3 linked regions of the Homo sapiens genome follow. The protein of the gene in region 1 purifies or fractionates together with the protein of each later gene. This does not show direct contact. Each region holds a gene or a part of one and is shown in the gene's direction. Other genes may lie near its edges.

Region 1 (3,525 bases):
GGAAGAGTCACTTGTCCGGTGACCTAGGAGCAGGCCTCCTGGTCAACAGCCCCACAGACCAATGGCTGCACCTCAGAAGAGGACTGAATAGCGGGTGTTGCCCCCGAGTGCTCAGAGTCCCTAGGGAAGCTCACACCTGCGCAACCTTGTCCAGAGTCCCCTGTGTATCCTGCCGGCACCTCCTCCAGGGAGCCTCTGAGTCTTGCCTAGTTGAGCAGCAGCCCCCATCCCTGTCCTCCACAGCCTTCAGTGCAGTCCTACAGGGCAGCCTCTTCGGGCAGCTGGGCACCATGCCCTCCACCTACAGCACCCTCTTCCTCAGCGGCCAGGGCCTGGCTGGGATCTTTGCTGCCCTTGCCATGCTCCTGTCCATGGCCAGTGAGTGCACTTGGGTGGCTGGAGGGCTGGGGTGGCCTCTGAGGTTTGGGGAAGAGAGAGGGCATGTGAGAGCAAGACACATGGGTTCTGGGTGAAGATGGAGGTAAGCAGGTGATATGGAAATGGGGATTGGGTCTGGGGCTAGGGAGTGGGGCTCATGGGCCCTGCAGTGAGGAGTAATAACCAAGTGAGGACTGGGTTAACTCAGGGACAGGGGCAGGATTCCTGGGGCTAATACTGGCATGTGGCAGCAGGTTGAAGTTGAAGGATAAGGGGATGGGTTTGGGATTCAGATAGTCTTGGGTTTGAATCTGCTTCACCGCTTACCAGCTAGGGGTGTTGGACAAGGCTTGTCACCTCTCTGTGCTAGCTTCCCCACCGACGTGATTGGTATAGCTCCCTGCTCAGATTGTAATGAGCATGCAATGAGAGAAGGCTACTGGCACATAGTACGTGCTCAACAAAAATGACACATGGGGAAAGTGAGAGAAGTGCAGGGCTGCTCTGGGGCCCTGTACAAGATTCCCATTTGTCAGTGAAGGGAGGAGCGGAAGAGGCTGGGAGTGGGTCTGAGAAGTACACAATGGGAAGTGGGACAAGAGTTGGAAGCCCCGTGGGAGCCGGCGGGACCAGGTGCCTCTCTTCTGCAGCTGAAGTTCCTCCGCAGGTGGCGTGGACGCCGAGACCTCTGCCCTGGGGTACTTTATCACGCCCTGTGTGGGCATCCTCATGTCCATCGTGTGTTACCTGAGCCTGCCTCACCTGGTGAGCCTGCTGTTGGGCTCGAGGCCCCACCTCAAAGCATCTTGGATAGAGTCCTGAGCCTGAGGCCCTGAGAGAGGCCAGGGGAGGTGGAGGAGACCTGGTCTCAGCCCTGACCCCCAGAGAAGACACTGAGGGGCCCCAGCCTCCAGGCCAATGGTATGGGGAGGGATCCAGACACCTCAGGCAAGCCAGGCAGGCCCAACACTTTCCTGTCCTTCTGCAGAAGTTTGCCCGCTACTACCTGGCCAATAAATCATCCCAGGCCCAAGCTCAGGAGCTGGAGACCAAAGCTGAGCTCCTCCAGTCTGGTAAGCCCTGAGACCCTCCTGGGGAGGTGGGAGATGCAGAGGAAGCTAGAGCCACCTCCCCTGGGAAGCTGTTCCATCTGTTCCCAGCCAGAGCCCACCCCTAGTAGCCTTGTGCAAACAGGAAGATCATGAAGGGAAGTTGGTAGGATTAAAGTCATCCCTGCTGTTGTTTGGGCCTCAGTTTCCACCTCTATAAAATGGGGAGGCGACAGAGGTTCCATGCATGCAAACTTTGGATCCGAAGACCTCTGAATTGGAATACTAGTTTCACAACATCCCAGCTGTGTGGCCTGAGACAAACCACTTAGCCACTGCACCCCTCTGAACCTCAATGTGTCATTTGTAAAGCAATGGTAATGAGATAATCCATCTAAGGTGCTTCGCTCATCACCCGACCCATGCACGCGCTTCCTGGTAGCTATGCATATTTCCATCATGAATTCCCTTCGCCTGCAGCCTCAGCTTAGGCTGGAGGAAGATCACCTTTTTTTGTTTTGGGGTGAGGGGGTTGTTGTTATTTTGAGTCAGGATCTCACTCTGTCACCTAGGCTGCACTGCAGTGCTATCACAACTCAACTGCAGCCTCGACCTCCTGGGCTCAAGTGAGCCACCTCAGTCTCCCGAGTAGCTGGGACTATAGGTGCAGGCTGCCATGCCCGGCTAATTTTTTTATTTTTGTAGAAATGGGGATTCACCATGTTGCCCAGGCTGGTCTCGAACTCCTGGGCTCAAGCAATATGCCCGCCTCGGCCTTCCAAAATGTTGGGATTACAGGCGTGAGCCACCATGCTGAGCTGAGGATCACTTGTTTTAACTGCTGGGAATCTCCCTTCGTTGGGCCTGGCTGTCGGGAAACCTGGGTCACAAGCATGACCCTTCCCCGTCCCCCCTCACCCCAGATGAGAACGGGATTCCCAGTAGTCCCCAGAAAGTAGCTCTGACCCTGGATCTTGACCTGGAGAAGGAGCCGGAATCAGAGCCAGATGAGCCCCAGAAGCCAGGAAAACCTTCAGTCTTCACTGTCTTCCAGAAGGTTTGGCTTGGATACAGCCCCCAACCACCATCTTTGGGGAAGAATGGGGCTCACATTGACTCCAAGGTCATAGGGTCACAGTGGGTCAGGGACACAGCTGGGCCAGGCCCCAAGTGTCCTGCTCCCACATGGGGCTTGGGCAAGAGGGTGGGGCCCTGGGACTGCCCTGCCTGCTCACACCCCTGCCTCTGGCTCCCAGATCTGGCTGACAGCGCTGTGCCTTGTGTTGGTCTTCACAGTCACCCTGTCCGTCTTCCCCGCCATCACAGCCATGGTGACCAGCTCCACCAGTCCTGGGAAGTGGAGTGAGTGTCAGGGTGGAGAAGACGGCAGGGCAGGGGGTACAAAGGGGAGAGGACGGGAGAGGGGAGTTGGAGACCAGTATGAGCTGCAGCCGTTTCCCTCCCAGGTCAGTTCTTCAACCCCATCTGCTGCTTCCTCCTCTTCAACATCATGGACTGGCTGGGACGGAGCCTGACCTCTTACTTCCTGTGGGTAAGCACACCAGGGCTGGGTGATCCGATGTTTTAGGAAGCAGTTTGGGATCCGAGGGCTTGAAAGAGCATGGAGGTGATTTTCTGGTAGTCCAAATGGCCTGGTAATGCAACCACTGGCCAAGCAGCAGGGAGCACTTGGGCCCTGGAGGCGTGCAGGCCAGGGCTTGCACTGTGAGCTCCCTGAAAGCAAAAATCATGTCCAGCTGACCTCTGTGTCCCCAGCATCCAGCCTTTGCTGCTCAGAGAATGTTACATGGAGGTTCCTGCACCAGGTGAGGGACTGAGCAAGAGTCTTAGTTTTGGGGTTGGTTTTAGCCATGGTACTGTATCTTTAAATGAAATCTTCCAAAGAGACAATACATAACGCAGGTGAAAGAGGAGCTGGTCTCATCCAAGTCAGGACAGGAGCTGATCTACAGCTTCCAATCCCACTCAGAAACCCCATCTGCCCCCAAGGGGGTCTGTGGAACCACCAGTGGGTGCTCTGAGGAACCGAGTACGTAAACTGTAGATGCGGTGGAGAGCACAAGCTGGAGCCTGGGAG
Region 2 (2,486 bases), on another chromosome or scaffold:
CAGGTTGGTCTCAAACTCCTGGGCTCAAGTGATCCTCCCGCCTCAGCCTCCCAAAGTGCTGGGATTACAGGTGTGAGCCACTGTGCCCGGCCTGTCTAGGCTTTTAAAATACCATAGGATGCCTCAAAATCAAGGTTTCTCAACTTCAAGCACAATTGACATTTTGGGGCTGGATAATTCTTTTTTGTGGAATTGCAGGACATTTAGCAGGATCCCTGGACTCTATCAACTAGAGCCAGTAGCACCCTGCCCCCAGTTATGACAACCCAAAATGTCCCCAGACACTGCCAACTGTCCCAGGGGAGCGGGGAGAAGAAGGGAGCAAGATTGCCCCCAGTTGAGAATCACTGCTGTAAAAGATGAGAAATAACTGTTGTATAGCCTTAGCTCTTTACTGTCGATACCAGAAAGCAAGCTCTGGGCTCTACACCAAATAGCTCTATCAGGAATGATTCAATGTAGGTAAACAGAGGCGAGGCAGCGGGGAGCACAGCTGGTTAGTACGTTAGTGTGAGAAAGCAAATTGAAAGGAGAGACATCAAAGGAGCGAGCAGGGTCATCTGGGGCTCTGAATCCATAAACCAGATTTGTCCATATTCTCGAAAGAGCTCAGAGATGAAGCCTCACCTGCCTAGCTCTATCAACATGTTGTCATCCTTTGGGAAATCAGATTTCATGGAAACAGCACATTTTACCACAGTTGTTTAACACAGCTGATTTGACACAGCTACTTTTGATGCTTGACGGTGAGGATGGGGGTACATTTTAAGGCTGCCAAAATGGCTCAGTGTTTAATATCACATAATATGCATGTCAGATAACCATTCCTGACTCCTCAGTCCTTGCCCCAGCATCTGGGATAGATGAGGAATGGAATTGGCAATTTCAAAAAAGAAAGCTAGGGCTGGGCGCAGTGGCTCACACCTGTAATCCCAGCACTTTGGGAGGCTAAGTTAGGAGGATCACCTGAGGTCAGGAGTTCAAGACCAGCCTGGCCAACATGGAAAAACTCCATCTCTAATAAAAAATGTGAAAATCAACCAGACGTGGTGGCACACACCTGTAGTCCCAGCTACTCAGGAAGCTGAGGCAGGAGAATCGCTTGAACCCAGGAGACAGAAGTTGCAGTGAGCCTAGATCTCACCACTGCACTCCAGCATGGGCGACAGAACGAGACTCCGTCTCAACAACAACAAAAAAAGCTAGAAGTTTAATGATTTATTATGCCAGACCAAATTGTTCTTGCACCAAAATGTCCTCAAGCCGAAATGCCTAAATCCAAACAGCTGCCTCAGACAGTCACATGCCCTATTTGATCTGTGTCACAGATGGAGCTACGTTAACCATATTCATCACCTAGTTTGCATGAATATTACACAGTTCAGTTCTGAGCTGCCTTAGAGGGTGGGGTACCAGCAGCCATCTCATTTGGTACCCAGGACCACAAGGATCACAGTTTGGAAGCAACATCACACGTCAACTCCATTACTTCTGAGCTGTGTGACCTTGGGGAGAGCACTTAATTTCTGAAACCTTCGTTTCCTCATCTGCAAAATGGGGATAACAGTAGTACCCACCCTGCAGGGCTCTAAATGAGATAATAAAGTGTCCCAGTACTGTTATGATCATTGTTATCATAATCATGTCATGAACTATCAAATGGGCTTATTATTCAGCTTTGTGTATAGTCTCCCAATGGTCTAATGATCAGAAGGATGGTGCCAAGTAACTAGAGGAGGCCAGCACCTGTGCTCCCCTATAACTCAGGGCCTGCTTGGGGTGGGGAAGGCCCACGTCCAAACCAACAGTTACCCTTGAGTGCCCAGCTGCTCCCTGGCCTGGACTCTGAAGTTGGAATTGGTAGTTTCCTCTTGGGAATTTGTCCTGTCCTGATTTAGTCAGAGGAGCTGGTTTAATCTACAAGAGAGATGATTTCTTCTTGCCATGACTGTTGTAGCTGGTTGCTCTGGTTTCTCTGGTACAAAGTTTCATTTTATAGGAACCTAGGGAACCAAGAACTTCCTAAGGGTACATATGGGGATCTCTGTTAACATTAACCTTTTGGGAGACCAAAGTATTACCTTAGCTTATATTATACATATGCTGCTACTTGAAGTCAAAACATATCCAACCAGAGTTAGGAAGTGGGCCTTTTATTAATATATTACCTTGCTTCAGATTTTGACTGTTTCATTAAAAACCAAACAAAAAAAAAACTGCCATAGAGAACTGGTTTCTGAAGCAATCTCCACTTTGGTATGCTTACTTTGAGTGGCCTTAGGGAAGTAATGAAAAATAAATAAAATATGAACATATATCACAAATGTTTTTAAAAACATATTTTACAAATACATCTTTAAGAATAAAGCAATGTCTAAGTTTGTTTGCTTTTTAATGCTTTCTGTGGATACTTCATGCCACCCGCTTTGTGTTTCCTTATACAGGAAATGCTTCTACAGAGAGGAATGGGGTCTCTTTTAGTGTTC
Region 3 (3,655 bases), on another chromosome or scaffold:
ATATTTATACTACTTCTGCTGTACTTTTTTTTTTTTTAACTTTTTATTTGGAAATAACTTGAAGTTGGTGCACTGCACTCATACTTTTGTTCCATTAAGCTCACTAAATTGATTTAATTATTTATTAATGGGTCATGGTATCTGGCATTTGAGAGATAGCTTTAATCTAAAGGAGTAAATACCTTGAGAATTTTCAGCAGAAATTTAGGCCTTTGCCTTTACTCCTGTCTCCAATTTTTGAGAAAAGAAAGGTGTTTTTTTGGTTGCTGTTTGTTTTATTTTGCTGATGTGAAATAGGAAGGATTTTTCAGTGCACGGTATCACAATGCATGTGTAAGATGCTAACATGACTTCATGTAAGCTAGGTGATTATCCAATTAACTTCACTTCCAACTCTGGATATATATCCCTGATGAGTTCCAATAGGAACAGTAGTGTATGTAATTCTGCTCTCAGTCCCTGGAATCTGGAATACATGAGGAGGATAACATGAAGTGCCTGGGTTGCTATCAGAGTACATGGAAGTAGAGGTTTCAGGTTATTCTTATCAAGACTTCTCTAGTTATAATGTGTCATCAATAGCTGATTCTTCTTTCTGGCAGGCGGAGATGGTCCACACAGGTTTGAAGTTGGAGCGAGCTCTGTTGGTTACAGCTTCTCAGTGTCAACAGCCAGCAGAAGTAAGTTCACTACTAGCTGGTTTCATTTTGGTTTGATGCTCAGGACGAGTTGAGAGATTTATGTCAAGCTATTATAACATTTTAAAATAGACCTACTAGGCTTTTGATAATATATGTTCATACCAAGTCCCAGAGGTAGAGCCATACTTCAAGTGCCTTAATGGGAAGGTACTATTGGGTACTTAATGGTCTCTACTGGCTTTTTCTCTGTCATTTTGCATAGGACTGTGGTTATCCCTGGGACTTTGCTTGCCTGCCTCTTTGCTGAGTCCACATTCATCATAGTGTCTCCAAAGCCCTTTAAAGATGATTCTCTTGCTTCACTGTGGATGGGCTTTAGTAGTGCTCCTGTGGAGATCTTAAAACTCCTACAGTATTGCTTCTCTCCTCATCCTTCACTGGTTGGGAGACTCTCTCTTTAATTTTACTCCCACCTCAAAATTTTATGGTGCAAGATGTGAAAAGTTGAATTAGAGAAAATTTAGATTTCTCTTGGAGTCAAAGAATATAGGTTTCCTTCTTTTGCATTTGGTTTTCCTAGTTACAGAGGAATAATAAAGCAAGTTGTCCTAAATGCTGTATTAAAACCCTTGACCCTCAGCATGCCTAGATAATATAAAAATAGTGCAAGATAATGTCAAATATATTAGATTCTGGTTAAGTGTGCTGGCTCATTCCTGTAATCCCAGCACTTTGGGAGGCTGAGGCAGGAGGATCACTTGAGGCCAGGAGTTTGAGACCAGCCTGGGCAACATAGCAAGACCTCGTCTCTATTAAAAATTAAAAAAATAAAATAAATAAAAATAGCCAGGCAAGGTGGTGCATGCGTATAGTCCCAGCTACTTGAGAGGCTGAAATGGGAGGAAGATTTGGGCCTGAAAGTTTGAGGATGCAGTGAGCCATGAACACACCACTGCACTCCAGCCTGGGCGACAGAGCAAGACCTTCTCTCAAAAAACATTGTGTGTGTGTGTGTGTGTGTGTGTATAGATGCCATCTAATTCTAATATGTAGAATTAGATTTTAATTCTTAATCTGTCCTGAATGGTTAAGATCTGAGAATTGAGATGTTCAGGAAATGGAGCTTTGGAGGAAGGGTGCAAACACAAACAAAATTCATCCATTTTGCCAAGGTGCCTACTTGAATGCTAAGCCCCTAATTGTTTTTTATTTTATTTATGTTTAAAAAAAAATTTTTTTTTTGAGACAGGGTGTTGTTTTGTCACCCAGACTGGAGGGTAGTGGTGCAATCACAGCTCACTGAAGCCTTGACCTCCCAGGTGTAATGATCCTCCCACCTCAGCCTCCTGAGTAGCCTTGACTACAGTGTGCACCACCATGCCTGGCTTGCTTATTTACTTACTTATTTATTTATTTATTTCTGAGATGGAGTTTCTCTCTGTCGCCCAGGCTGGAGTGCAGTGGCAGGATCTCGGCTCACTGAAACCTCCACCTCCCAGGCTCAAGTGATTCTCCCACCTCAGCCTCCTGAATAGCTGGGACTACAGGCATGCGCCACCATGCCCAGCTGATTTTTGTATTTTTATAGAGATGGGGTTTCCCCATGTTGCCCAGGCTGATCTTAAACTCCTGGACTCAAGCGATCTGCCCACCTTGGCCTCCCAAAGTGCTGGGATTACAGGCGTGAGCCACCATGCCTGGCCCTAATTCTTTTTATTATTTGTAGAGACAAAGTTGTGCTGTGTTGTTCAGTCTGTCTTGAACTCCTGGTCTCAAGCAGTTCTCCTGCCTTGGCCTCCCAAAGTGCTGGGATTACAGGCGTGGGTCACCATGCCCAGACTAAGCCCCCTAATTGCATTTGATTCATCAGTTCTTTACAGCAGCTACTATATGGCTGGCAATGCATTGGGGGCTTTCATGATGATAAAAGAGCTCGTCTTTGAAGAATTAATGAGAAAGTAAAACATATTCACATGGGTCCATTAATAGTTTGTATTGGTGAGTGATAAAATGCCAAGATTGGTTATGCTGACAACAAATGCTGTAGGAGGCTGGTGTGGCTGGGTTGGAGGGCCCTCATGAAGCATGAGGAAAATTTGGATTCATGGGAAAAAAAGAGAACATCATGAGTAAGGCACAGGAATGATGTCCTGAGTGTATGTCCTCTGAGTGGAACAAAAAAGAGACAGGTGGCTGAAATGGAGGTTCTGTGGTATAGCTGAAGTATGGGTCCTGATCATGAAGAACCATCAGGTGCAGCCTGAGGAGTTGGAACTCTACGAGGAGAGTGAGATGATGAGCAGTATTTTAGCCTTAGGAATCAGGACAGGACTCATGCAGTTTATTTGGGTGCTCACTAGAGTCCATAGAGAATTCTTGCCTTCAGGATCAGAAGGCATAGACACCTTTGTGGAAAGATGTTAACCTGAATCTTTTCTTGTATCTTTTCCTAGAATAAGCTTTCCGATTTGTTGGCACCCATCTCAGAGCAGATCAAAGAAGTGATAACCTTTCGGGAGAAGAACCGAGGCAGCAAGTTGTTTAATCACCTGTCAGCTGTCAGCGAAAGTATCCAGGCCCTGGGCTGGGTGGCTATGGTGAGCAGCGCAGATTCCAGGGCTGGGGGTGGGTATAGATTTTAAGAGGGAAGGCAATATAGTTGGAGAGGTCCTGAGTCACTGACAGCTTGTCTCTCTCTAGGCTCCCAAGCCTGGCCCTTATGTGAAAGAAATGAATGATGCCGCCATGTTTTATACAAACCGAGTCCTCAAAGAGTACAAAGATGTGTAAGTTCAGCCTTTTCTCTCTTTTTTTCTTTTCTGAGACAGTGTCTTGCGTTGTCACCCAGGCTGAAGTACAGTGGCACAATCACAGCTCATTGCAGCCTCAACCTCCCAGCTCAAACAATCCTCCCACCTCAGTCCTCCAAGTAGCTGGGACTTCAGGCACGCTCCACCATGCCTGGCTAATTTTCTAATTTTTTCGTAGAGATGAGGTCTCACTGTTTCCCAGGC

The links.
Region 2: the proteins of SLC29A2 (region 1) and ADGRG2 purify together in Homo sapiens (affinity purification with mass spectrometry; one large-scale study listed by BioGRID and IntAct). This does not show direct contact.
Region 3: the proteins of SLC29A2 (region 1) and CAP1 purify together in Homo sapiens (affinity purification with mass spectrometry; one large-scale study listed by BioGRID and IntAct). This does not show direct contact.

Annotation. Positions count from the first base shown.
Region 1 is NC_000011.10:66,365,390-66,368,914, reverse strand, and holds part of SLC29A2 (equilibrative nucleoside transporter 2), read left to right. Parts: intron 1-243; coding exon 244-378; intron 379-1,045; coding exon 1,046-1,143; intron 1,144-1,366; coding exon 1,367-1,451; intron 1,452-2,350; coding exon 2,351-2,484; coding exon of another isoform or gene 2,485-2,683; coding exon 2,684-2,789; intron 2,790-2,893; coding exon 2,894-2,979; intron 2,980-3,525. UniProt on the Homo sapiens protein: Bidirectional uniporter involved in the facilitative transport of nucleosides and nucleobases, and contributes to maintaining their cellular homeostasis. Functions as a Na(+)-independent, passive transporter.
Region 2 is NC_000023.11:18,991,007-18,993,492, reverse strand, and holds part of ADGRG2 (adhesion G-protein coupled receptor G2 isoform 1 precursor), read left to right. Parts: intron 1-2,444; coding exon 2,445-2,486. UniProt on the Homo sapiens protein: Adhesion G-protein coupled receptor (aGPCR) for steroid hormones, such as dehydroepiandrosterone (DHEA; also named 3beta-hydroxyandrost-5-en-17-one) and androstenedione.
Region 3 is NC_000001.11:40,061,133-40,064,787, forward strand, and holds part of CAP1 (adenylyl cyclase-associated protein 1), read left to right. Parts: intron 1-602; coding exon 603-680; intron 681-3,094; coding exon 3,095-3,238; intron 3,239-3,341; coding exon 3,342-3,427; intron 3,428-3,655. UniProt on the Homo sapiens protein: Directly regulates filament dynamics and has been implicated in a number of complex developmental and morphological processes, including mRNA localization and the establishment of cell polarity.